2 linked regions of the Homo sapiens genome follow. The protein of the gene in region 2 interacts with the protein of the main gene of each other region in a biochemical or structural test. Each region holds a gene or a part of one and is shown on either strand. Other genes may lie near its edges. The genes, in order: EIF6 and ITGB4.

Evidence for each region.
Region 1: the proteins of ITGB4 (region 2) and EIF6 form a complex in vitro, tested with the Homo sapiens proteins (one study listed by BioGRID).

What each region holds. Positions count from the first base shown.
Region 1 is NC_000020.11:35,279,761-35,295,995, forward strand, and holds the start of EIF6 (eukaryotic translation initiation factor 6), read right to left. Parts: upstream 5,013-16,235; 5' UTR 4,966-5,012; intron 4,958-4,965; exon of another isoform or gene 4,733-4,957; 5' UTR 4,728-4,732; coding exon 4,621-4,727; coding exon of another isoform or gene 4,502-4,620; coding exon 4,416-4,501; intron 1,070-4,415; coding exon 894-1,069; intron 359-893; coding exon 182-358; intron 1-181. Other genes in the region: protein FAM83C, read right to left, coding at 6,775-8,212, 8,701-8,825, 9,031-9,198, 12,032-12,544. UniProt on the Homo sapiens protein: Binds to the 60S ribosomal subunit and prevents its association with the 40S ribosomal subunit to form the 80S initiation complex in the cytoplasm. Behaves as a stimulatory translation initiation factor downstream insulin/growth factors.
Region 2 is NC_000017.11:75,752,459-75,758,318, reverse strand, and holds the end of ITGB4 (integrin beta-4 isoform 1 precursor), read right to left. Parts: coding exon 5,742-5,860; intron 4,555-5,741; coding exon 4,345-4,554; intron 3,744-4,344; coding exon 3,504-3,743; intron 3,265-3,503; coding exon of another isoform or gene 3,106-3,264; intron 2,619-3,105; coding exon 2,469-2,618; intron 1,891-2,468; coding exon 1,702-1,890; intron 1,616-1,701; coding exon 1,460-1,615; intron 1,377-1,459; coding exon 1,212-1,376; intron 1,120-1,211; coding exon 1,009-1,119; coding exon of another isoform or gene 998-1,008; exon of another isoform or gene 904-997; coding exon 764-903; 3' UTR 501-763; downstream 1-500. Other genes in the region: GALK1 (galactokinase), read left to right, coding at 1-109, 192-263. UniProt on the Homo sapiens protein: Integrin alpha-6/beta-4 is a receptor for laminin. Plays a critical structural role in the hemidesmosome of epithelial cells. Is required for the regulation of keratinocyte polarity and motility.

The sequences.
Region 1 (16,235 bases), on a different chromosome or scaffold from region 2:
GGCTCAATGTGAGTCACGGCACCAAATTCTCTCCCTCCTCAATGAAGACTCTCCCCAAACCCTGCTCCTCCCTGACCTGCAGCCCCAGTCCCAAACTGTGGCAGGTAATGACCCAGACTCCCAAACACTAGGCAAAAGGATCTGCCTCGGGAGACGGGGTTCAGAGGACAGGAATGCTTACCACAAGGGGGACTTGAAGAAGAGAGGACAGCTCATCCTGGTCTTCAATTGAAGTCTTGGGATGCACCAGCCCTCCCTGATTGCTGAAGACACAGTAGCTTCCTACTAGCACCTGGTCGGCCACTGTCTGTCTGAAGACTTCCACCTTGAGCACATCTGCCAGAATTTCTTCTGTCTCCTGTCAATCAAAGATATTGTGTTCAGGGCTCAGAACTTACAGCCCCAGAACCAAGGTTCTCCATGCCCAGAAGCATCCAGGCCTTGGCTCCCTGAGCCCCTCATTTCTCCTCTGTACCTCATATGAAAGCCTCACCCAGAGAAAGGAGGAAGTACAGCTTAGAGCAGAGTCAAGGGCAGCTGTGAAGCCCCTAATATTCATGCATGCCCTGAACAGCTGGAGGCTGGTCTCAATATCACTTCTTTCCCCTCTCACCCACAGTCAAAAGTTCAACAGTCAATCACCTATCCTGGCCCAGGATGCAGGACTGGATGGTTCAATCTCCCCAATCATGAAGGATTCATACCCTCCCCAGCTTCTTTCTGACACTTGATAAGGCCTCTGTTATCACTATTCCAATGAGTACCTGAAACTCAAGAGCCCATATAGAAAAACCACAGGAGAGACCCCTAATTGCTGCCTGTTGGGAAAGAACAGTGGCTAACCACTGACTAGGATGGCCCTGTGACTCTTGGGTCAAGTTGGGCTGCCTCACCCTGTCCAAGTCTGGGTGGACCAAGGCCACGTAGTCATTGCAGGTGGTGACATTGCCCAAGGCTGAGAGCCGCTCCTCCACCCGCCTAATCTGCACTGTGTCTGGGAGGCTGTTGCGAATGTGTTGCAGCTCCTGGTCGGTGGTATTGTTGGGTACCAGGAGACCGTGCCTGTTCCCTGGAGAAACCCAAATTAGAGGGTGAATACACAAGATGCCTGCTGAGCCCTAGGGGCTGAGGATACCACTCAGCCCAGCCCAATCAGCTTTCCCAGGAAAGCTTTAGGCCCAGAGCCCAGCCCTCCAACCCACTGATCTGGAAAACACCCAGGGCAGGCCAGAGACCACCCAGGAATCCCAATAAATCCTGCCTACTTCACCATCACCAACTGGGAGGGAAGCTGAGCTCTTGGCATTAGCTGTATATTTTGCTACTTAAAAACTGAGCTGCCGGGCGTGTTGGCTCACGCCTGTAATCCCAGCACTTTGGGAGGCTGAGGTGGGCAGATCACAAGGTCAGGAGATCGAGATCGAGATCATCCTGGCTAACACGGTGAAACCCCGTCTCTACTAAAAATACAAAAAATTAGCCAGGCGTGGTGGCGGGCGCCTGTAGTCCCAGCTACTCGGGAGGCTGAGGCAGGAGAATGGCGTGAACCCGGGAGGCGGAGCTTGCAGTGAGCCGAGATCGCGCCACTGCACTCCAACCTGGGTGACAGAGCGAAACTCCGTCTCCAAAAAAAAAAAACAAAAAAACAAAAAAAACTGAGCTAACACTACACACATAGCAGAATGGCTAGATTATTATTTTTTAAGGCAGAGTCTCACTCTGTCACCCAGGCTGGAGCGCAGTGGTGCGATCTCAGCTCACTGCAACTTCTGCATCCTGGGTTCAGGTGATTCTCCTGCTTCGGCCTCCTGAGTAGCTGGAATTACAAGTGCGTGCCACCACACCTGGCTAACTTTTTGTGATTTTGTAGAGATGGGGTCTCACTATGTTGGCCAGGCTGGTCTCGAACTCCTAACCTCAGGTGATCCGCCCACCTCGACCTCCCAAAGTGCTACGATTACAGGTGTGAGCCACTGCCCCCAGCCAGAATGACTAAAATTTTTACAAGTCATCAATTCCAAGTGTTGGCAAAGATATATGGAGCAACTGAACTCTCATACTGAGACAGGAGTGTAAGTTGGTCAATCACTTTAGATAATTATCTGGCATCATCTGCAACTACTACTAAATAGTCACATAACCTGTGACTCTGCCATGCCACTCTTAGGTATCATATACCCAGTAGAAATATGTACATGTGTTCACTAAAAAAACATAGCAGCACTATTACTTTTTTTTTTTTTTTTGAGACGGAGTCTTGTTCTGTTGCCCAGGCTGGAGTGCAGTGGCACAATCTCGGCTCACTGCAAGTTCTACCTCCCCGGTTCACACCATTCTCCTGCCTCAACCTCCCAAGTAGCTGGGACTACAGGCACCCGCCACCACACCTGGCTAATTTTTTTGTATTTTTAGTAGACACGGGGTTTCACCGTGTTAACCAGGATGGTCTCGATCTCCCGACCTCGTGATCCGCCCGCCTCGGCCTCCCAGAGTGCTGGGATTACAGGCGTGAGCCACCATGCCCGGCCAGCAGCACTATTCCTAACAGACCAAAGTGAAAACTGCCCAAATGCACTGTCGATGGAATGGATGAATACGTTGTGATATACTTACACAAAACACACCATACAGCAACAAGAATGAACAATCTACAAATACACGCCAATCAATTTCTGAATTCCAGGTCACTCCCATCATAAAATACACAAGGACTAAGCTAAAATCTCCCTTGTTGTCAGAACTTGCTTCAAGTCCTAAGGGCATGGTTAGAGATCAGAGTATTTTAACTGAATAGGAAAATACTTTGAGGTCACTAGGCTTAAGTTTTTGTTGTTGTTGTTTTTTGTTTTTTGTTTTTTTTTGAGACACAGTTTCACTCTTATTGCCCAGGCTGAAATGCAATGGCACAATCTCAGCTCACCGCAGGGTGAGCTCCACCTCCAGGGTTCAAGCAATTCTCCCGCCTCAGCCTCCCAAGTAGCTGGGATTATAGGTATGCGCCACCACACCCGGCTAATTTCTGTATTTTTAGTAGAGACGGGGTTTCTCCATGTTGGTCAGGTTAGTCTCGAACTGCTGACCTCAGGTGATCCACCTGCCTCGACCTCCCAAGCAGGCTTAAGATTTTTAAAAATTAAAGTAAAAGTAAAAAAATAAAATAAACAGACTTCTAAAAGTGACCTCAATGAGCAGAACTAAGAAACAATGGGCAGCAGTAATGGAAGACAGATCCAGCTTAATGAAAGGACCGGCCGGGCGCAGTGGCTCACGCCTGTAATCCCAGCACTTTGGGAGGCCGAGGTGGGAGGATCACCTGAGGTCAGGAGTTCAAGACCAGCCTGGCCAACATGGTGAAACTCCATCTCTACTAAAAATACAAAAAAATTAGCCGGGTGTGGCGGGATGCGCCTGTAATCCCAGCTACTTGGGAGGCTGAGGCAGGAGAATCACTTGAAGAGAGTGTTGCAGTGAGCCAAGATCGTGCCATTGCACTCCAGCCTGGGCAACAAGAGCGAAAACTCCATCTCAAAAAAAAATAATAATAATAATAAAAAGGAAAGGACCAACGACCAGAATTAACAGTGCTGACAGGTAGGAAGGTAGGGTAGAGATGTGGTAAAGGGAATTTAAGATTCCAACGTAACTGAGCAGGAAGACCGCATATCTTAGCTAATCTTTACAGAGACAGAAATGGATGCTTAGAAAGAGAAAGCACCTTGCCCAGTCAGTGGCAGGGAGAGATGAGATACAAATCCTCGGCTGGGTATAGTGGCTCTCGCCTATAATCCCAACACTTTAAGAGACCAAGGTAAGAAGATCACTTGAGCCCAGGAGATCAAGGCCAGGCTGGGCAACACAGGGAGGCCGCGTCTCTACCAAAAATGTAAAAATTAGCCAGGTGTGGTGGCACGTGCCTGTGGCCCTAGCTACCTGGTAGGCTGAGGTGGGAGGATCACTTGAGCCTAAGAAGTTGAGGATGCAGACAGCTGTGATCTTGCCACTGCACTCCAGCCTGGGCGAAAGAGCAAAAATCTGGCCTCAAAAAAAAAAAAAAAAGAGAAAAATCCTTCTCCAACACTAGGAACTAGGTGTGGAACTTACTGAGTCACTTAGGTCAAGTCTCAACTTCCTCATCAGTCAAGTTAGGCCAGTAACTCCTACCTTCTAGTGTCTTTGTGACGAAGGAATGAGAACAGGAGTGAAAGCACTTTACATTATTTGTTATTACTATTATCCAGCAGCCTTTGCTAGAGGGTTGCCCCGATCTCCTGACGCTTGGCCTGAGAGATTCTATAGTGCCCAGAGATAACAGATGATACCCTGGGAATCCCTAGGTCACTCCGGGTTCCCTCCGGGGGTGTAATTAATGGTGCTTGGAGACCACTCCCTCCCTCGGCGTCCTCCACCTGCCTTACCCACACACATGCGCCCGATGATGCGGCAGCCGGCGATAGACGCGTGCACCACGGGGATGGTATCGGAGAGCTCGCCCTCGAACACACTGTAGGGACATGGACTCGGTGGTGGCGGGGCAGAGGGGCCGGCACCCTCCCACTGCCGGAGCTCTTGACTCCTGCGCACGCCTCCCCGCCACCGTAAGCCCCGGGGCTCCCGCCGCACCTGTAGAAGTTCTCTGAGCCTCCGATCGCTACCAGACAGTAGGTGTTGGTGAGCTTGGCAAAGCAGCCGATCTCACAGTTGTTCTCGAACGAAGCTCGGACCGCCATGAGGCCTAGGGGCGGCGGAGGCGGGAGTTCAAGGCCGGCGGATCCTTTCCCAAGTATCCCGGCCTCCGTCCCTCAGGCCCCGCCGCGACCCCGCCCCTCTCGGCCTCCCGGCCCCTCCGTCCTCGGGTCCCGCCCACTGGGCCCCCACCAGAACCTCCGGCCCTGAATCCTCTGGCCCCCACCCCTCCCGACCCAGGACCGGAGCTGACCCTCCCAGGTTCCCCTCACACCAGCTTACCAAGTAACCAGTAACAAGCTCCGCACGCGGCGACTGTACCTTGGACTCCCTAAAAAGGTTTCCGTTTCCACTTCCGTCCAGGGAGACTTCCGGGAGAGCCCGGCGCTCCCCGCCACGCATCCAGCCCCTCTACCTCCGGCCTCCGGCGGACTCTATGGTCGCGAGCGGTCTGGGCGCGACCCCGCCTGGCCCCACGCCTAGCCTGCTCGCGTTCATTCATTCATTATTCATTCAGGAGCTTTTTAGGAGCTGTCATCGACCTAGACCTCCGGCTGGTCGGTTGTGAGGCATGAGGGAGAGGAGGGGCCAGGAGTGTCTCGCGGAAGGGTTGATGATGGAGGTATTGATGGAAATGAAGCCGGAGGAAGGGCAGGTTTGGGGAAAGGGATGAGTCCAGCTGTGCCTTGAGGGACAGAAGTCCATGTCTGGAGCCCAGCAGGGGAGTGGAGTGCTGACGAATGAGATGAGGGGCTGAAGACGGGTGGACTAGAAGAGGCTACCCATGGAGAGAGTTCCAGGAGGCAGAAGTGCGGCCAGACCGAGGCTGGAGAAAGAGCGCAGCCAGAGACGGAAAGGCAGCCAGGCTGCAGGTGCTGGAGAGAGGGGAGGACTGAGGAAGCAGGGGCTCAGGAAAAGGCTGGAAAGGGGTCCAGGGTGGGCAAGGATGTGGGTGCTGGTTGGCTTCCACGATGTGCCTCTCGCACGGCCTCTATCACTCACTCAGCAGCCAACTTCTGTCCCCAGGATAGTGATGGGGGCCAAGGGCCCTGCTGCACACTTGGACAGGATGAACTTGGCCCACATTTTGTAGAATCTGCAAAAGCCCCGGGTTCTCTCAAAATGTCACAGTGGTAACTTGGAGCCCCTGGACTCCCCCAATTCCTCCTTCGGCATTCACCCTCCTCCAGGGGTTTCCCCATAATTGGCCTGAATGGTGCCCTTCCCATTCCCCCAACGTGTCCCTCCCATAACTCCTCAAAGTTCAGGATACACCAGGCGCTGTGATTCACAATAAAGTCTGCCTTTATTGATGTGTATCATGTTTACTATCCCGGGTAAGTGGTGAGTTCAGGAAAATGGCCCACAACCTGTCACAGCCTGTACTTCAAGAGACACTCAGCAAGATGATGACGACGACAATGATGATGATGATGATGATGACTCAGCAAGATGATGACGACGACAATGATGATGATGATAATGATGATGTGTGTGTGTGTGTGTTTCCGGGTATCCACATACTCTGCTCTTCCTCACTCATTCACCTCAGACCCACTCAGTCCTCTTTAGGGCATCTCTTTCACCTGATTCTCTCTACCAAAAATTTTTCTAACTCTCTCCTCCCTCTGTCCAAAACCTCCCCATCCTTCAGGGCCTGGCTCAAAGGCCACCTCCATCTCCTCTAAGAAAGTTTTCTGACTACTCCACCTTCTCCAGGACTCTCTGCCCTTTGTTTTCTAACACCCTCTGTAACTGGTTAACCTTTAACTTGATATGGCTCTGACCCCTTCTCCAGCAGCTTGTGCATTTCACCTCTGTCCCCAGGTCTGAGTGTGACCCACCTGTCAGCTCTACAGGCCCAGCACAGGGCTGGAAACACAGCCTAGATTCAAGAAGATACTAGTTAGGGTGTGTGTGTGTGTGTGTGTGTGTGTGTGTGTACACAAGAATCTTGAGCCCAGAGAGTGTGTCTGACCTGGGTTTCTAGACACCTCCCTTCCCCAGTCTGGGACCTGAGCAAGTCCAGAGTCTCGGTGGACAGAGGAGGGGCCTGCCCTTGCCAGTGCACCCCCGATGCCAGTCCTTTGGCTAGGACTCAAAGCGGCTTCGGAGCTGCTTGAACTTGGACTTGTTGTACTTAGTGATGAGGTCCAGTTTGCTGTGACCCAGGGTCAGCCGTTTCTCATCCCTGACCAGGTCACTGTTACCACCATTGAGATGGCCACCCTTGGGACCCCCAGGCTCAGTTCCCTGCCTGGCCCCGTGCAACTGATGATACTTGGTGATGAGGTCCAGCTTGCTGTGGCCCAGGGTTAGCCGTTTCTCATCCCCAGACCCAGCTCCAGCCGTGCGAGCAGGGCTTGATATCGGGAGACCATTGGGCCCAGGCCCCTCACCACGGAATGGGCCGAACTTTGTGATGAGGTCCAGCTGGCTGTGCCCCAGGGTCTGCCGCCGCTCATCTGGTGCCCGTCTGGCAGGTCTGGCTGAGGAGTTGGTTTCAAGGGGCACTCTGGAACCCTGGGCCTTGGGGTACTGCATCAGGAGGTCTGATTGGCCACGGCTTTGGTTTAGGGACAGCCTCCTGTCCTCCAGGGCCCGATCACCAGGTCTGAGGGAACCCAACTCAGGGGCACCCCCAGTACCCAGGGCTCGGGACAGGAGATCCAGCTGGCTGTCGGCCTGGCTTGGGGACAACCTCCTGTCCTCTGGGGCCTGCTCGCCAGGCCGAAGGGGGCCTGAGTTGGGGGTAACCCCAGAGTCAGGGTCTCCCACTTCTCGGGCTCTGGGGAAGGGGACAAGGAGATCCAGCTGGCCACGGCTCTGACTTGGAGATGCCTTCTTCTCCTTCTCCTCCACTGTCTCCAGGGTTGTGCCAGGTACCCATCGACCCCGCAGGGGGCTGGGCTCTTGGCTTCCTGGGAGCCCATTCTCTGGGAACCGGGACAGAGCTGGGGCACCCCGATGGAACTGGAGGAGGGGCCGGGAGCGAGGAAGCAGAGGTGACCCCACTGCCAAGGTTAAGGGGCTGGTACTATTATGGTTGAGGGCAGGGGAGGACTGGGACCATGGGTATGCCCCTAGCTTGCCGAGATTGGCCCTATAGAGCCCAGGAGGGGAGCCGTGGTTAGGGTCTGACAGTTGGCGATGTAGGGAGGGCTGGCCACTGGCCTCACGGCGGGCAGGACCCAGGGACGAGGACACCACACCCGTATCACTGCAATCACCACCTCCTGGTAGAGCGAGGTAGGAGGAGCGACCCATAAGCGGTGACTGCTTGATGCTGCTGAGGCTGGTGCTGGAGGGCAGGGACGACGTGGGGCTTGGGACATCAGGCCTGAAGGCTAGGGCCACAGGGGGAGGACGCAGTGCCCGGGGAGACAGCGGGTCCTCACCGCCACAGAAGCCCTCCACAGGCTGCGACTCAGCGTACAGACAGCGGAACTCCCGGTCAAAGTCTTCCACGATGCGGCCCCTCAGCTGCAGCACCATGCTAGTGTGGGCCTGGCTGCAAAGCCAGGTGAAGCTGGGGGCAGAGGGACAGGGGGGTCAGGAGGCAAAGTGCAGGATCCTGGGGGTCGGCAGGAGTCACAGCCAGGGGTGCATACCTGGTCCAGCACGCTAGACCCAAACCCCACCACCACGAGGGCTCACAGCGAGGGGCAGAGCTCCAACTCCAGAGTCTGTGCTTGCCCTAGCCCTGCTTAGTGTGTGACCTCATGGAGGCCCCAACTTCCCCATCTGTCAAATGGACTTGGGGGAGGTTCCCTGAAGTCACTCCAGTTCCAATGGGCATAGTCATTTTCTATACCAAGGGTATTAAAGTAATCATTCCCCTAGAGTGAGCTCCTCCAGGGCCGATGCCCCCGACACCCTCCCCTGAGCCTGGCATGATGCCTGGCACATGGCAGGTACTCAGCCCGTGTCCGAAGGAAAGGATGAGTGGAGGGAAGCTCAGAGCTGCCAGCCAGTGATGCAGCCCCAGGCCCCCCTTGCCTCCTCGTGCCTGCTCACCTGTAACTGCCCGCCACCACTTGCTCACAGTCAATGAGGACGAACTTCTCCAGGGCCTGCCCCGTGAAGCGGCGGCCAGCCTTGCTGCAGTATGTGTCCCCACACGTGCTCCGCACACGCATGTTCTAGGTGGAAGTAGGTTGGGGGTGACCTTGAGAGAGTGAGGCTCAAGCCATGTCTCTGCCCCATGGGGTCTCTAACCCCAGACAGCTAAGGGAACCCACCCCCCACTCCCAGTGCCCCCCAGTGCTGACTGGCCACCCACTGGCTCCCCTGCCCTCCCTGACTCCCCGCCCACACCCCTGGTTACTGCCCCTGGTCCTCACTGACCGGCAGGTGCTCCCCATTGAGGTCCATCTTGTAGCACATCTCCAGGAAGTGCCTCAGGTGCTCCTGGGCAAGGAGCAGGTACACAGGGACACCACGCCGGCTTGAGGCCTCCATGAGGTCACACAGAAGCTCCATGTCAGTGAATATGTCCATCACCACAGCCACCACCTGGGTGGGGGGAGGCACACGAAAGCTCAGCGCTGCCCAGGGCACTCCCCACATCCAGCCAAACCTGGGGCAGGAAACTGGGCGCCGGGAAAAGAGTACTGGACTGAAAATCAGGAGGCCAGAGCCTTCAAGAGCAAGTGAACAGGAAGGGCACTTAGCAGTGACCTAGCCCAGGGCTTCTTAACTTGGGCACAGGCAGATTTGACTGTCTTCTTTTTTTTAAGAGTCAGTGTCTGTCTCACTCTGTTGCCCAGGCTGCAGTGCAGTGGCGTGATCATAGCTCTCTTCTGCCTAGAACTCCCAGGCTCAAGCAATCTCCTCCCAACTCAGCCTCCCAAGTAGCTGGTATTATAGGCATGTGCCACTATGCCTGGCTAATTTTCTTTTCTTTTTTTTTTTTGAGACAGAGTCTCACTCTGTTGCCCAGGCTGGAGTGTAGTGGCGTGATCTCGGCTCACTGCAACCTCTGCCTTCTGGGTTCAAGCGATTCTCGTGTCTCAGCCTCTCAAGTAGCTGGAATTTCAGGCATCCACCACCATGCCCAGCTAATCTGTATTTTTAATAGAGATGGAGTTTCACCATGTTGGCCAGGCTGGTCTCAAACTCCTGACCTTGTGATCTGCCTGCCTTGGACTCCCAAAGTGCTGTGATTACAGGCGTGAGCCACCACGCCCAGTCGCTAGTTTTTTTTTAATTCTAATTTTTTGTAGAGATGGGGTTCTCACAAGCTGGTCTTGAACCCCTGGCCTCAAGCGATCCTCCCACCTCAGCCTCCCAAAGCACTGGGATTACAGTCAAATCCCAGCCCAGATTTGACTGTCTTGAACCCCTAGCTGTTTGAAAGCATTTGTGTGCATCCTTCTGTGCACCGAGTGTTTATCCATCATCAGATTCTCAAAGATGACTGTGGATCAGCTGTGCTAGTCCAACACTCCCTCTGCACTGAGCCCCAGATGGGACAGCAGTGAGAAGGAGAACCCAGACCCCAATTCCCAGGCAAGTTCCTGGCACTCCCCCGACTAACTCCAGCCCAGCTCTGACCCAGGGACTGTCTGTCTGAGGCTCCCTTCTCCAGGGTCACAGCTACAAGCCACTTACTGGGGTCTTCGCTGCCCTTTCCCAGTCCTGCCTCAGTTTCCCTGTGAAGCCACAGAGGTCTGGTGTGACCCCTTACACTGCAGACTCCCTTACTTGCACCCATGCCAAATGGATCCAAGTTTTCTGCTCAGTTGAGGGCTGGGCTGGGGCTTGTGCCTCCATCCCATATAAAGGGCTGCCTCAAAGAGGCCCCTGAAACCTTCTTGGCACCTCCCAGCCCCCAGCTGGCCTTTCTTCCCATGGCATATATCTGCTATGAGAGTCTTCTCTCCCAGGCAGGGCCGAGAGGCAGGAGGTACAGAGCATAGCACTCCAGCTCTGGAGTCAGAAAGAACTGGGTTCAAACCTGGACTCTATCACTTCCTGGTGACACAGCTTTGGGTGAGTCCCTTCACCTCTGGAAGCCTCACCTTCCTCATCTGTTAAATGGAGATAATGATAGCCATGTCTCAGAGTTACAGGGAATTAAATGTGAAAATGCTCAAGACATAACAGAGCTCTATAAACATTGGGCTGCAGGGCAACGCAGCATTTCCCAAGGTCACTAGGAGTCATGACAGCCCAGTGCACGAACCTGGCTCCTGACCCAGGATAGAGGGGTCTAAATGGGGGCTGAGAAGGCGAGGCACTGGGGGATGCCCTAGTTCACAGCACAGGCCTGGCCAGGGTGGGGGAACAAGGACAGGCAGGAAGATCAAAGAGGCAGGGGTGAGGAGGACGACAGCAGCAGCCTCACTAATAACCCCATTCCTGATGCCAATCAGGCCTGGCCGTCCCCTGCCTGGGGCACAGGAAGGCTTGCCAGGGAGGCTCTGGAAGTACCGGTGGGATCCCAGCATCCTGGCTTCCCATCTCTGCAGCAGGAGCCTAACTCTCCCTCAAACCCTGCCAGGGATCATCTCGTCCATTCCCCTGGAGTCGGAGGCCAGGGCTTCAGAAGGGAAGCTGTGCTCGTGTGTGGCCAGAGCCTTTCTGGGTGCTGACCACCCCTACCTGCCCTCCCAATTCTCTTTCTCCTGAGCTCCCGCTCCCCATCACTGAGCCCAGCAGCCTCCTCTCCTCCTTCCTCCTTGGTTCCAAAGCCCAGCCCTCAAGGCCACGCCAAAGAGGCCCACACGCTGGCCCCTTCCCCTGCTTCAGGCCCAGCTGCAGATGTGGTGCAGGAGGGTAGGGGGCAACTAGGGACCTGAGCCAGCAAGGAGGGCCGGACTGGTCCCCAGGACCCAAGTCAGAGAGCCCCTGTCTCCCCAAGCCCTGAGCTCTATGTCACCATATGGACCTCCCTGGGCAAGTCCCAAGCCCCTCTCTGGCCTCAGTTTCTTCTTCTATAAGTGAAGGAGGTGACTCAGATGTTCCCCAAGGTTGGAGTTCTTAGTGTGGGGATCATAAAACTTTTTGAGAATCTGATTTAAGGCAGTGGAGCATCTTCCAAGGTAAAGATGCAGCGAGGACTCCTCCCTCCAACCTGCACCACTTCGTGTGCATTTCAGGGGATTGTGGAGTCCCTGACACCCATGCCCTGTTCTATGCTCATCCATACTATTCCTGGGTACCAAGCAGTTGCCAAGGTAAATATGGGATGTCCCCCTTCTAGGAGTTTGCAATCTAATAGTGCCAGAGGTGCTGGTCCTCATTCTGCCCCTAAGTCGCTGTGTGGCCTTGGGCTGGTCCCTTCCCTCTCTGGACCTCAGTTTCCTCCTCTGTGAGATGAGTGATGGAGAGATGAGGCCCTTACCGTGTGGGCCTGGCTGAAAAGGAAGCGCAGCAGGTCCTTGATGTTCTTGGCCTTGTCCCTCTGGAAGTGGACCACAGCCTGGGTGGGGCTGAAGCCTGTGGCCTGTGGCACCTCGGGCCAGCCCAGGTCCAGGTCTGGGGGGTCTATGTCAGAGGCCATGGGGAAGTAAGTCCCTGAGGTGACTTCAGAGAGCAGGCTGAGGCGGTCTGGCCCGGAGGCCTCCTGCCCCTGAGCCTCGCTGAGCTCAGGGCCCCCGCGCACATGGCTGGTCATGTAGTCCACATCCAGGGCGCTCAGGAAGGGCAGCTCCCGCTCCTCGGAGATGACCCGCAGGTAGGCAGCCTCACCCCGCTCCAGGAGGGCGTCGGCCGCCAGCCGAGCCGCCTCGCTGTGCCGCAGCACCAGCGGTGAGCTCTCCCGCCACCACGGCAGCTTCAGCTCTTCCACCCGGCCCCGCAGGGGTCCCGCCATGCCCTGGGCTCCCAGGACCCCAGGCCCCGGGCCTCCGAACATGCCTGCCACGCGGCTGCCTCACCCGCCGGCAGGGCCCATGGCCCGCACGCTGGGCTGGCTGCAGCAGGAAGAGGAGACCAGCAGAACCGCCTTCTGCCCGCCCGCTCGCTGTGTGTGTGGCAGGGCCCCCAAACTGTTGCCACCCTAAATCAGAGCCACGCTCCACCCTATTGCCCCTGGCCTCTGGAACCTGTCAGGTCAGCCCCACCTGTCTGCCTGTGTTGGGACTCGCCTGCCCAGGGAAGCGGCAGTGCCAGGCCCTCGGTGCACACTCCTGCCTCCCTCTCTTCCTCCCAGCAACGCCGCCCCATCCCCACCAGGCTCCCAGCAAGTCTCCAAATGCTGACTTCCCGGGACCCACAGAGGTTGAATTACAGCCAAGAGGGGCCCAGGCGACTCAGGAACACACACTCACACGCACACGCACACACACTGCAGGTGGGTGAGCGACTCAAGACACCCAGGAAAAGACATGAACACCCATGCAGATGGACACACTGACAACTGACCGATACACAGACATGGAGTGTGGGCTGACACAGACCGACCACACATTGTAATCACATCCACTTGCATAAACTCTTCACCCAAACGCCGATGTAGAGACCGGCCATGACCCCCACAACACATACCACAGTGGATAGCACGTGCCCTGGCTCAAGTCTGCAAGGCCCTGAGAGCTGAACGACTGTCACATGGAATATCCAAGGACATCAACGCTGGTCTGTCCCCCAGCCAGCCCTCTTTTTGCTCCCATAATCGTCCTGCCACTCTCCATCATCTTAACTGTGGTGCTCACAGCCCCCTGGCTCTCTCCCACCCCGGCTCGGAGCTGTCCTTCAAGAACCTAGAGCAGTGGCTCTCACCCTGACCCCAGGGGTGGTGAGAGGTGATGAAATGCAGATCCCCGGGCCCCACCCTCCTGGAAATTCTCATCCAGAAGGTGTCCGTAGGCTTCTGGAGCTTGTCTTTTTTCTTTTTCTTTTTGAGATAGGGTCTTGCTCTGTCACCCAGTCTGGAGGGCAGTGGCGCAATCACAGCTCACTACAGCTGTGCCTCAGTTTCTCTGGACTCGAGCGATCTTCCCACCTCAGCCTCCTGAGTAGCTGGGATTACAGGTGCATGTTACCATGCTCGGCTACTTTTAAAATTTTTTTAGAGATGGGATCTCACTATGTTGCCCAGGCTGATCTTGAACTCCTGGCCTCAAGCAATCCTCCTGTCTCAGCCTCCCAAAGTGCTGGGATTACAGGTGTGAGCCGCCACACCTGGCCATTTTTCTTTTTTAATTGAGACATGATCTTGCTCTGTCACCCAGGCTAGAGAGAGCAGTGATGTGATCATAGCTTACTGTAACCTCAAATTCCTGAGTTTTTAAACAAGTGCCCAGTGCACTGTGGGCAGTGGGCTAAGGCCCACCCCTGAGACATGCTGTTCCAGATGGCTGTGCTTGCAACACCCTTAACTCCAGGGATGTTCTTGGCCTGGTGGTGGCCAGACCCCAGCCTTCTTCCCCTCCTCCAGGGCTGAGTATGAAAATGGTTGGAAGGTTGTTTCAGAGAATGGGCGGACACACTGCAAGGTCAGGAGGCAAACAGGGCAGGTAGATTTCTGACCTCTGCCCCAACAAAGATTAAAGTCCTGGAGCATGTACCGTGTGTCCTTCGGAGGATGGTGAGCAGCTTTGCTCTGGGGAAGGGGGTGAGCAGGTGACAGCTGCAGCTGGGGAGCCAGGCTAGGCAGAAGCGGTCACCACCTTTCCACGGAGGCATGAGGTCCAGCGAGGATGGCGGGAAGCGCAGAAGACCTAAAGCCGTGCCTCGCAGCCTGTTTAGCACTAAGCGCACTTGGTTTATCTGGTCTGCGATCATGTCCGGAACACAGGGTCTTCTGTGTCCAAAGAACTTGACACACATATAGTGGGAGGGAGCTGGGTGGGATTTAGAGGTTCCGGAGTTGAGCTGAGCCCTAGGACCAAAGGTGAATGGGGCTAGGGCTGTGTCTTCAAGGACCCTATAAGTGAAGGGCCTGGGGGAGCATGGGGGAGCCACAGGTCAGGAGTTATGGCCTACTCCATCCCATCCCAGGTGCAGGAGCACCGGGCACTCCAAGGAGGCCCTTCCATGGGGGTGAGGAGGCTGCAAGAGGGGCAGAAGGTTGAGTAAACAAAGCCAGACCGTGGGAGGGTGATGAGCTGTGGGGGCAGCCGAGGTGGCAGGGCCATCATTAGGGCCTTATCTCCAGATTTGTTTGAAGGGGAGGACCAACCAGGGTCTTATCTGGGTGGTAGAAGTGCTCCCGGGAGGGAGGGAGGCATGTTTGCGTGTCACTGAGTTAGTTTTGTTTATCTTGCAGTGTGTATACATCTACTTCAGGTACATATCTTTGGCTCTGTATCTTTTAATTGTGGTAAAATACGCATAAAATTTGCCTTTAAAAAATAATTCGTGGCCAGACGCTGTGGCTCATGCCTATAATCCCAGCCCTTTGGGAGGCCGAGGTGGGCGGATCACCTGAGGTTGGGAGTTCAAGACCAGACTGACCAACATGGTGAAACCCCATCCATCTCTAATAAAAATACAAAAAGTAGGTGGCTGTGGTGGCAGGCGCCCATAATCCCAGCTACTTGGGAGGCTGAGGCAGGAGAATCGCTTGAACCTGGGAGGCAGAGGTTGAGGTGAGCTGAGATTACGCCACTGCACTCCAGCCTGGGTGACAGAGCGAGACTTCATCTCAAAAAAAAAAAAAAAAGAATTAGAGATGGAGTCTTGCTCTGTTGCCCAGGTTACTCTCAAACTCCTGGCCTCAAGCGATGCTCTTGCCTCCGCCTCCCAAAGTGTTGAGATTACAGGTGTGAGCCACTGCACCAAGCCAAAATCTGCTATTGTAACCATTTTTAAGTGGTACGCTTTAAGTGTCGTAAGTGCATTCACACTGTGGTGTAACCCTCACCACCATCCATCTCTAGAACTCTTCTCACTTTGCAAAACTAGAGCTCTGTACCCACTAAACACGAATTCCCCATTTCCCCCTCCCCCAGCCCCTGGCGCCCACTATTCTGCTTCCTGTCTCTATGAATTTGACTCCTCTAGGTATCTCATTTAAGTGGAATCATACGGTTTTGTCCTTTTGTGACTGGCTCATTTCACGTAGCTTCATGTCTTCAAGTTCCTTCACATTGTAGCGTATGTCGGAATCTCCTTCCACTTTAGGCTGAATAACATCCCATTGCATGTATGTAGCATGTGTGTAGCACATTTAGCTCATTCCTCCATGGATGGATGCCTGAGTTGCTTCCACCTTTTGGCTGTTGTAAATAAGGCACAGGTGTACAAATTTGGCTCTGTATTTTTGTATACTTCCCCCCACGCCCAGGTTTGTACTAGATTCCTTTTTTGTACATAAGAAACCACTGAATATTGGCAATTTCATATGGTTTGACTAAATATATACAGGTGTACCTATGCAGAACTGTACCTGTGCTTGTATGTGTGTGCACGTCCTGTCTGTGATGTTTGTGTGCCCGTGTGGCACGGCAGTGTGCATGGACCTGTGTGTGCATGTGTGTCTGGGTGGCGGGATAGTCCTTGAGTCGGACTCTGTGTTGCGGTACTGGGGCTGTGTGTACAGGAAGCACAATGGAGAGGGGCAGGGGTGGGAAGACTTTGTTGAAAGGCAAGGGGTTCCAGTG
Region 2 (5,860 bases):
TGCTGTGCCTGGGGTTTATGGCAGCCGCATGACGGGCGGTGGCTTCGGTGGCTGCACGGTGACACTGCTGGAGGCCTCCGCTGCTCCCCACGCCATGCGGCACATCCAGGTGGGCGGGCACCAGGGCCTGGGCGGGCAGGAGCGGCAGCTTCCCGGGGCCCTGCCACTCACCCCCAGCCCGCCTCTTACAGGAGCACTACGGCGGGACTGCCACCTTCTACCTCTCTCAAGCAGCCGATGGAGCCAAGGTGCTGTGCTTGTGAGGCACCCCCAGGACAGCACACGGTGAGGGTGCGGGGCCTGCAGGCCAGTCCCACGGCTCTGTGCCCGGTGCCATCTTCCATATCCGGGTGCTCAATAAACTTGTGCCTCCAATGTGGTACCTGCCTCCTCTAGAGGTGGGTGTATGCTTGGGTGTCAGAGAATGGGGGATGTCAGAACCGCTCCCCTACCCTAGGGGAGCACCTCTCAGGCCCCAGAAGAATGGGCAAGGCAGGGCCTAGCAGTAGCAAAACCATTTATTAAGTGCAGAACAAAGGCTGGGTCCTTGTGCTGCTCCCAGCTCTTTGGTTACAAATAGGTTTGGGCCCACAGAGGACGGACCTTGCCCCCTTCATGCCTCCCAGGAGACACCTAGCCCCTGCTCTGTGCATGCGGGTGGGCTGGGCCCCCAGGGGTGCAAGGATGGAGTAGCTGAGGAGGCTCCGGGAGAGGAGTCGGGAGGACGCCTAGTGGGACGTGGCGGGGGTGGGGCAGGGTGCGGTCAAGTTTGGAAGAACTGTTGGTCCATGTGGGTGCTAAGGGTTCCGCTGGTGGTCAGTGTCCGGCTCACAAACTCCTGGGTCACATGCCGGGTGAGGGAGCCGCCTGCCTCCAGGTGCTGGGCCCCCAGGGTCAGCCCATCTGTGGAGGAGGAGGCATTAGATGACCTGGCTTGGGGTCTGCCCTTCTCCCTCTGCTAGCTCCCTGTCCCAGGAGAGCCGGGATCCCCTAGCCCTCAGTGCTCACCCACTAGGAAGGGCTCGGTGGCGCTGGTGTGGGTGGTGGTGATGCTGCTGTACTCGCTTTGCAGCGGGTGCTGGAAGAGCCCGGCACGGCTGCCCAGCTGCGGGAAGGGTCCTGGGGTGGGCAGATAGGCCAGTCAGAGGGTGGTGCCAGAAGGAGGCACGGCCCGAGGAGGGGTGGGGGTGAAGGAAAGGACAGGTGCCTACCTCCATCCTGGGACTCTATGGTGATGATGCCCTCGCGCTCTGGCCCGAAGCCCTCAGTGGTCCTGGCCTGCACCTTGAACTTGTAGGGCACGTTCTCGCTGAGGCCCGGCACGGTCAGCCGGCTCTCGGGGCTGTCTCCATCCACCCGGAATGCGGTGGCTGGCCCTGAGCAGGGAAGATGCCTTCAGCGTCTGCGGCCCCCTCTTTACCCCTCCCCTGGCCACTCCTGCCCCCGGGGTGGGCAGCACCTCCTCCTTGGGCCATCTCACAGGTCACCAGGTAGCCGACGATATCCCCATTGGGCCTCCGTGGCCGCTCCCAGCTCAGCTGCAGCGAGTCTGGGCTCAGGGCAGTGAACACCAGCGGGCCTGGGGCACTGGGAGTGCTCAAAGTGAAGGCGGAGCCTGGGGGCAGTAGAGGAAGAGCATCAGCCTGTGGGTGGGTGGTGGGCATGATGGGGGCAGCTCTGGGGCTGGGGGAGGCAACTCACCTGGCAGGGGACACAGTGGGCTCTGCGGGTGCACCTGGGATTCAATGGTGATGACACCCTCACGCTCTCGGCCCCAGCCTTCCTGGCTCTGGGCCCGCACGCGGAACACGTAGGAGTGGTTGGGCAGGAGGTCTTCCACCACCACCGAGGTCTGGGCAGGGTTGGGGATGTTGAGCCGATGCAGCTCACCTGGGGGGATCAGGTGGGGGCACACAGTAGTGCAGTGTTACTCCCACCCCTGGCCTGATCCTCCTCGTCCCTAAGCTGCCATCGAGACCTAGTTATCACCCACCCAGGACTAGCTGTGGTTTGGGTACAGGTTGGGTACAGTATGGTATGGCTGGTTGTTCAGATTGTGTACTATACAAGAGTGGAGCCTGTAATCCCACTCATGTTTAGGCAACATCCTGCATCCTGGTCATGCTGCTTTGAATGTGCCTGCCCAGGGAAGTGCCACTTCCTTGTTCCCCCAAAGGCATCTCAGGCCAGCAGAGGCCCTAGGATCCCAGCCCAAAGGGGCCTTGTTAGGCAAAACCTAGCAGAGAATGACCAGGAGAGAGGCCCAGGGAGGTGGGTGAGACCTCAGAAGAGGGGAGGCAAAGAAGTGGGGTGGAGAATGGGGTGGGAGACCCTCTCAGGCTGGATGGGGGCTTTAGCGCTCAAGGGACTTGGGTGGGTTCCTGACACAGCTGAGGTACCCTATGTGTCACACTGGGGCCAGGCCTTGCAGGGCTGCACCCCGCAGCCTGGCAGCCACCATGCCTCACCGCCGTTCAGCAGCTGGTACTCCACACTGTAGCCCTGCAGCGGCCGCTCGCACCGCGGCTCCTGCCAGCTCACTCTGAGAGATGTGGGCCCCAGGGCAGAGAACACCAGGCGGGTGGGCGTGTCGGGCACACCAGCAGTCAGGCGAGAGTCTGGGGACAGGAGGCCGCAGTCAGCCAGAGATGCAGGGGCTAGGGTCTCAGTGGGAGTCACAGTGCTGCCCCCTGACCTCCCTCCCTCAGCTGGCATGTCTACACTGACCGCTGGCTGGACAACTCACTCACCCTGCAACACCCTGTCCAGGCTGCCCAGCACCTACCGCACATCCTCCAGCAGGGTGCAGGCCCTGCTTGTGCCAAAAGAGAGTGAGCCCCGTGAGTCTGCCAGCCCCACCCCCTCAACTGCTCAGCTGGCCTGGCCCCTCTCCTGCCCCAGCCCCAGCCCCGCCCCCTGGGAGGGCAGAGGCAGAGTTAGGCATCAGCACTGATGGTAGGGCAGGTGGTTAGCGCCTGTGGGCAGGCGGGGGTCCTGTGGATGGAATGGAGGGGAAGCAGTGGGCACAGCTGGCGGCTGCTATGGTGGCTGGATGACAGATGGAGCAGGACAGCTGTGGAGACAGGATGGCCACCCCTGTACTACCTGGGCCCCAGGAGGGCGCTGCTGGCCTCCCAGCCAGGATTATAGAGTCTCGTGGGCCCCTGGAAGGGGGGAACCCTTTCATCTGAGCCCGACTCCGGGACCCCAGGGCCCAGGACAGCGGAAGCCTGCTCCTCCCGTGTTCCCAGATGGGAGGGAGGCCTAGGGCAGGACAAAACAAGAGTGAGAGGAGCAGGGAGTGTGCATGCATGTGTGTACGTGTGCGCATGCATGTCTGTGTACATGTGTGCATGCGTGTGCACGTGTGTGCGTGCATGTGTGCATGCGTGTGTGTATGTTGGAGAATGGGCGGTGGGGACAGCAGACAGAAGCCCGAGGCTCCAGGAGCTGGAAGAGAGGAAGGGTTAGTGGGAGAGGCAGGGTTGGCTGAGGTCACTCACCGTGGGAGGAGACGGAGGTGAGGGTGGAGTAGTCCCTGGGCAGTGTGGTCGAGTGTGAGTGTTCTGAGCGGGTCAGTGAGTTGTAGTCCCGTGTGAGGGTGGAGGATGTGCTTAGCACGCGGTGGGGCACGTGTGGGCTCAGGTGGGTGCCATAGGCAGCAGCACTGGTCGTGGTCATCCTGTGCAGGGAGTTGGTGCTGCCCGGGAAGGCAAAGTCCATCCGGCCATTCACCAGGTGCTCTGCAGGGGGAGAGCAGGGTCCCTTGGTCAGGCCTGCCCCAGACCCGGGCCCCGTGGGGCAGGCTGGGCCCTGCACATTCCTGGTCACCCACCCTCTGGGTGGCTTTTGCTTAAATACAACCAGTTTCCCTCAAACCACTAGGGACAGAGGCCCTCTGTCCCTGCAGGAGCCCAAGGGCCACCCAGGCTTCCACAGCCCATATCCTCTGGCCGGCCACTCTATCGGTGTGAGCACTGCTGACCCTGGCAGTGGCGGGGGTTTGCTGCGTCTGCAGTCAGCTCTGCCCTGGGGAGATCCCCAAGCCTTCCCTCCTGTCCTTTGAGGCCCCTGAGGGGTCTACTTGGGTGCCAGGGTCCGCTTCCCGGGCAGACTTCTGAATTTGCACCCCCTGGCCAGGCAGGCACCATAAGGGCCCAAGCGCCTGCCTCACGCGTCCCCTGGCACTGGGCCCTGCCTCTGAGCAGCTGTGCTCCCAGCCGCCAAGGCCCGGGCCTGGCTGAAACTGGGGCCCCCGAGGCAGCGCAGACGCCCACCCCAGGCCCTCAGGCGCGAGTGAGGCTGGGTGGGCGCGGATCGGGGGGCGGCGGGTGAGCCTGTCACCTCCGGGGGGCCCGGGTGTCGCACTGCGGGGCAGGCTGCCGCCCTTCCCGCCCGCGCCGCCGTCGTCCGGGGGCCCGTGGGGCGCCTCGGCGTCGGAGGAGCGCCCGCTGCTGGCCGACAGGCGCGGGATGAGCTCCGGGGGCAGCCGCCACGTGACGCGCCGCAGGTCCAGCTCCTCCCCCAGCAGGGGCTCGAACTTCCAGCCGCAGCCTTGGGAACAACGAAGGGCCGCGTTGGCACCGCCGGGGGGCGCCGGGCCGAGCAGGGCCAGGCGGGGGAAGGCCGTAGGCTCTGCGAGGGGAGCCCGTCTCCAGCTCCCGGGATCCCGGGGTGTGTGTTGGGGGCGGGGGTAGATGCGCACGGCCGGAGCGGGAAGGCCGCGGCAGGTGAAACCCTTGCGCGGCTGAAGCCTTTCCAGATGAGCGAGTGCAGCCTCGGCACAGCTGGGGAGGAGAGACCCCCGGACCCGCCAGAAACCTGGGGGAAGTCTGGGCTCTGTCACCAGCTGTGAGGTCTCCCTTGCTTTACTTAACCTCTCCGAGACTCAGTTTCCCGTTTGTACAATGGAGAGAGGAATCTTGCCCCTGCCCGCCTCCCAGGGACCGTTCCGCAAGCCACCGAGCGCTTCGCAGGTAGTGTTAGAAGCAGCTGAGCTGGGGTTCCAGAGTCACACCAGCTGCGCTCCACCTGAACCCCTCAAAATGGCTCCTTAAGCCCAAGCTGAGCCCCGTGGGGGCCAGTATGTGTTCACCGGGGGCAGCTTGAGGCATCGGCAGGGACAGAAGAAAATACAAAAGATATACGTGCCCCAGAGGTTTTTCCACTCATGGTACTGTGTGATTGGTATCCCATTATACAGAGCAGAAAAGTGAGGCATGGAAAGGATGAGTGATTCATCTGATGTCCCACAGGTGGAGCCACAGCTGACACTGAGCACTCAGGAGGCCCAGCTAAGGGCTCCGCAGCACTTTGTGCTGGGAATCAAGGAGGAAGGACAGAGCTGTTGGGGGTGTTCTTGTCTCCTTGGCTCCCCTACCCCTGCCAGGTGGCCGCCTGGTGGCTGCCCAGGGCTCCTGGGCCAGGCCTGCCCCTGGGGGGTGGCCTGAGTGTCCTGTGTGCATGGCACAGCTGGTGAACCTTCAACTTGTGAAGCTGTGTTTCTTCGTGGTCCCGTGGGCATGAACTCATGTGCGCTTGCACAAGGCTGTGTGTGTCTGTCCCCCAGGCACTGGTTCCTGTGCCCCATGCACAGATGTGCACTCCATTGCATTTGTCCAAGGCTGCCTTAACCTCCATGTCCTCTAGTTGCTGGCCCCTTTGCCCTCTCTGGACCCAGTGGACTCACTCTGTACCCAAGACCCCCACTGTCCTCTTGTGGGTCCCAGGTCTCCACTCACCAGTGTCATCGGAGACGCTGGGCCTCTGGCTGCCCGATGGAGAGCGTAGAACGTCATCGCTGTACATAAGGAAGCTGTCGTAGTCCTCCCCGCTCTGGGCGTCCACGATAGGGATGTCA